Regions from separate parts of the Homo sapiens genome. Here region 1 is linked to region 2. Evidence: fine-mapped expression QTL. Tissue or cell type: whole blood. Region 2 holds a variant in brackets; the other region holds the start of a gene. All regions are shown on one strand. Distances are from middle to middle.

Region 1 (2,623 bases), 360 kb after region 2:
GTCTGTGCCACTGATATTGGCAGCTCCTAATGAGAGGTGACAGCGTGCTGCCAGTCCTCACAGCCCTCGCTCGCTCTCGGGGCCTCCTCTGCCTGGGCTCCCACTTTGGCGGCACTTGAAGAGCTCTTCAGCCCACCGCTGCACTGTAGGAGCCCCTTTCTGGGCTGGCCAAGGCCAGAGCCAGCTCCCTCAGCTTGCAGGGAGGTGTGGAGGGAGAGGCGCGAGTGGGAACCGGGGCTGCGAGCGGCGCTTGCGGGCCAGCTGGAGTTTCGGGTGGGCGTGGGCTTGGCGGGCCCGCACTCGGAGCGGCCCGCGGGCCCTGCTGGCCCCGGGCAATGAGGGGCTTGGCACCCGGGCCAGTGGCTGCGGAGGATGTACTGGGTCCCCCAGCAGTGCCAGCTCACAGGCGCTGCGCTCGACTTCTCACCGGGCCTTAGCTGCCTTCCCGGGGGGGCAGGGCTCGGGACCTGCAGCCCTCCATGCCTGAGCCTCCCACCCCCTCCATGGGCTCCTGTGCGGCCGGAGCCTCCCCGGTGAGCGCCGCCCCCTGCTCCACAGCGCCCAGTCCCATCGACCACCACAGGGCTGAGGAGTGCGGGCGCATGGCGCAGGACTGGCAGGCAGCTCCACCTGCATCCCTGGTGCGGGATCCACTGGGTGAAGCCAGTTGTGCTCCTGAGTCTGGTGGGGACGTGGACAATCTTTACGTCTAGCTCAGGATTGTAAATACACCAGTCGGCACTCAGTATCTAGCTCAAGGTTTGTAAACACACCAATCAGCACCCTGTGTCTAGCTCAGAGTTTGTGAATGCACCAACTGACACTCTGTATCTAGCTGCTCTGGTGGGGCCTTGGAGAACCTTTGTGTCGACACTCTGTATTTAGCTAATCTGGTGGCGACGTGGAGAACCTTTGTGTCTAGCTCAGGGATTGTAAACGCACCAATCAGCACCCTGTCAAAACAGACCACTCGGCTCTACCAATCAGCAGGATGTGGGTGGGGCCAGATAAGAGAATAAAAGCAGGCTGCCTGAGCCCGCAGTGGCTACCTGTTCTGGTCCCCTTCCACACTGTGGAAGCTTTGTTCTTTTGCTCTTTGCAGTAAATCTTGCTACTGTTCACTCTTTGGGTCCATGCTGCTTTTATGAGCTTTAACACTCACCGCGAAGGTCTGCAGCTTCACTCCTGAAGCCAGCGAGACCACAAGCCCACTGGGAGGAACAAACGACTCCAGACGCACTGCCTTAAAAGCTGTAACACTCACCACGAAGGTCTGCAGCTTCACTCCTGAGCCAACAAGACCACAAACCCACCAGAAGGAAGAAACTCCAAACATCCAAACATCAAAAGAAACAAACTCCAGACGCGCTACCTTAAGAGCTGTAACACTCACTGCGAGGGTCTGCAGCTTCATTCTAGAACTCAGTGAGACCAAGAACCCACCAATTCCGGACACACTAAGACAAGATTTCACTAGTGTGTGCTGTTTCCCCTGCAAGGGGGAGGGCACAGAGATGGCTTTGGGTGAGGTTAGGGGGAGGATAGGCCTCCTGGTTGGCTAACACTTGTTTACTTCTGGGGCATGAGTGTTCATGTGAGCCCACGATGCCTGGCCTGTTCCTCTTTTAACAAAGTCTGGTAGGACATGGTGGCTCATGCCTGTAATCCCAGTAATTTGAAGGTCGAGGTGAGAGGATCTCTTGAAGCCGGAGGTTTGAGACCAGTCTAGGCAACATAATGAGAACTCTAAGAAAAAGGAAAAAAAAAAGTGGTGCATGCCTGTGGTTCCAGGTACTTACGAGGCTGAGGTGGGAGGTTCGCCTGAGCCCAGGAGTTTAAGGTTGCAGTGAGAGACGATGGCACCACTGCTCCCTAGCCTGGGCGACAGAGTGAGACCCCATCTCTAACAAAACGAAAACAAGATCCAATGCATCCTCCTGCCTGAAGTTCTTCCGTGGCTTCTCATTGCAGAAATCTACCGAATTTCTTTCTTTGGCTTTCAACTCATGGAGAGTCTGCTCTCACCAGCCTCTCCAGTCTCAGCAAATAGCACAAACTTTCCTGTCCTCCAAAATCTGGCCACCTCAGTGATGCTACGTCCCCCCATAGAGCCTTGGCACAACCTCAGCCTCCAATTGGTAGGGCTGTTGAGGCAAGGCCAGGATAGGAAATCTTGCTACCAGGAAGGAGTAGGTGGGTGAACAGCTTTTCCCTCTACTTCCTCTTCTATGCAGTGTTTGCATAAATCAAGACCTGCAGAGGAGGCAGCAGTAGAAACAGTTTGCTCCAAGGACCAAACTTATTCTGGTGTGCAGCTCACTCGCCCCTACTCATCTCCAGTGTATTTCAAGAGTATGCAGGGAAGGAAAAAGTCAGGCTGAGTTATAGCTGCACAGGCTGCCTCCCATGCTCAGAGCGCAGAGGTGGGGTGCAGCTGGGGCTTACTCAGTATCCAGCAGTGCCCAGATGATGATCATCTGCATCCAAGCCCCTCTGGTCCTGGAGACTCATGCTTCCCTTTGATGTCGCCCTGGATCTGCTCCCATGATGTCTGATACAGACAATTCCCAAGAAACAATAGTCTTCCAAGCCAGAAAGCAGCCTGGCCACTGTAGACAAACAT
Region 2 (2,755 bases):
CCTCCCAAAGTTCTAGGATTACAGGCATGAGCCACCACACCCGGCCCCAACTTTTTTTTAATTCCAAGTTTTTTTTGAGACAGGGTCTCACTCTGTCACCTAGGCTGGGATGTGGTGGCACAATCAGCTCACTGTGACCTTGAACTAGGCTCAAGCAATCCTCCTACCTCAGCCTCCTGGATAGCTGGGACTATGGGCCATGCCATCACACCTGGCTCATTTTTGTTTTTTTTGTTTTTTTAGGGTTTTTTTTTTTTTTTTTTTTTTTAGAGATAGGATCTTGCTATGTTGCCCAGGCTAGTCTCAAACTCCTGGACTGAAGTGATCTTCCTGCCTCAGCCTCCAAAAGTGCTGGATTATAGGCATGAACCACCATTCCCAGCCACCTAAGCATATATAACCTCTTTGCAGAACAATGAGGCTCAGTTTTTCTGTATCTTCATTCAACACAGCCTGTCATTCCTGATTGTATACATTCTGTTTGAAAGGTTTTTGTTTGTTTGTTTGCTTGTTTGTTTGTTTTGAGATGGAGTCTCGGTCTGTTGCCAGGCTGGAGTGCAGTGGCGTGATCTCGGCTCACTGCAACCTCTGCCTCCCAGTTTCAAGCAATTCTCCTGCCTCAGCCTCCCCAGTAGCTGGGAATACAGGCACGCACCACCACACCTGGCTAATTGTATTTTAATAGAGACGGAGTTTCACCATGTTGGCCAGGATGGTCTCAATCTCCTGACCTCATGATCCGCCCGCCTCGGCCACCCAAAGTGCTGGGATTACAGGCGTGCACCACCATGCCCGGCCCTCTGTTAGAAAGTTTAAAAGTTTAAAAGTAGCCTCCCAGCTACTTGGGAGGCTGAGGCAGGAGAATTGCTTGAACCCGGGAGGCGGAGGTTGCAGTGAGCCAAGATTGCGCCACTGCACTCCAGCCTGGGTGACAGCGAGACTCCGTCTCAAAAAAAAAAAGTTTAAAAGTGGATTTGTTTTAGCTGGAGAGGGGGCAAGAGAATTGACATCCTGATGGAGTTAAGGCTGAAAAGGGATCCTCCTGCTGCATAGCCCAGGATGCATCCTGTCTGTCCCTTAATTATAAAACATTCAGCAGCAGAAGCCAGTTGTGTTACTGCTTCTGTTGACAGGGAAGTTCCTGAACCTGCATGCAGCTCCCTCAGTGTTAAGCCACAGAAGTAAAGAACCTTTGCCCCTTTCACCCCTAGGCTGGCATCACCCTATTGCTGCCCAGCTCAGCAAGTACCTGAACCCTTCTCTGACTTGTCAGGACCTGGTCTTTGAAAATCATCTGTGGTGAGCCTTATGGCAGCACCAAGGGGGCATAGCCCGGCCCACCTGGGAGGCAAGTCTCGCCCTCAGCCTGTGCT[A/G]CCCAGAGCAGGCGAGGCTGATGCTCTCGGGAGCTTTGACATTTCCTGAATGCCCATGGAGTGGCATGCCATCCAGAACACAGACGGGCTTGAACAAGCTGACAGCTTCTCACTGAGTCACTGTCACTTGTAAGAACCGAGTCCCATGTGTTCACTTGGTCTCTGAGATCAGGTTTGCTGTGTTACTACCTCCCTGACCACCATCAGCCACGTGGCTAGCCCTGCAAGCCTGTCCAGATCTCTTAGTTGTCCCTGCCTGCCCCCATGTGCTCACACACACAGGGACTGGCCCCACTGGCATCGCTGCAGCCTCCAGAGGCCCTCCACCTGGGCATGGCTCCAGCCCTTTTGGCAGTCACTCTCATTTCTCTCTCCTCCTTGTCATTCTAAACAGAAAAATCCCAGTGAGGTGGATTTTCTGCCATTCTGTTTTGGAATCCCTGGGTTGTCATGGTAGACTTGGCAAATGTGAGTGTTATCTGAGTGCCAGGCACTGTTGCGGGCACTTCCCTTAATAAACATTGAATCCTTTGAGCAAGGCTTGAGGTTAGTTAATAGCTCCGGCTTACAAACAAAACTGGAAGACCAGAAAGGCTAAGCAATGTGTTCAGTGTCAAAATCTAGGCAGTGTGCCTGCAGAACCTGCTTTTTTTTTTTTTTGAGACGGAGTCTTGCTCTGTCGCCCAGGCTGGAGTACAGTGGTGAGATCTTGGTTCACTGCAACCTCTGCCTCCTGGGCTCAAGCAATGCTCATGCCTCAGCCTCCCCAGTAGCTGGGACTACAGGTGCCCACCACCACGCTTGGCTAACTTTTTGTATTTTAGTAGAGACAAGGTTTCACCATGTTGGCCAGGTTGGTCTCGAACTCCTGAGCTCAGGCGATCCACCTCGGCCTCCCAAAATGCTGGGATTATAGGCATGAGCCACTACACCTGGCCAGAACCTGCATTCTTGGTTCCTTGGCAGTACTGTGTGAGACCTACTGAATTGTCACCCTACAAGCAGTTTGAGGGTTCTGTGTGGTCTTAGAGCCTTAGATCTTAATCCAAATTATGTCTCTTCGTGGCCAGGCATGGTGTCTCACGCCTGTAATCCCAGCACTTTGGGAGGCCGAGGTGGGCAGATCACCTGAGGTCAGGAGTTGGAGACCAGCCTGACAAACATGGTGAAACCCCGTCTCTACTAAAAACATAAAAATTCCCTGGGTGTGGTGGCACATGCCTGTAATCCCAGCTACTTGGGAGGCTGAGGCAGAAGAATTGCTTGAACCCAGGAGGCAGAGGTTGCAGTGAACCAAGATCGCCCTACTGCACTCCAGCCTGGGCAACAAGAGCGAAGCTCTGTCTAAAATAATAATAATAATAATGATAATAATAATAATA

What was found. PIP is the estimated chance that this variant, and not a neighbour inherited with it, causes the effect.
Region 1: it holds the start of DPEP2, and the variant in region 2 is fine-mapped to the expression of DPEP2 in whole blood (INTERVAL, PIP 0.97).

The regions. Positions count from the first base shown.
Region 1 is chr16:67,998,003-68,000,625 of GRCh38, forward strand. It overlaps DPEP2 (dipeptidase 2), which reads right to left and starts at 1,482. Exons shown (of 11, transcript NM_022355.4): 1 at 1,373-1,482. RefSeq lists an enhancer at 1-421.
Region 2 is chr16:67,640,693-67,643,447 of GRCh38, forward strand. No RefSeq gene overlaps it. Among named protein-coding and RNA genes, the nearest start is that of CARMIL2, 3.1 kb to the right of the region's middle. The variant A/G (reference allele first, on the strand shown) is at 1,374.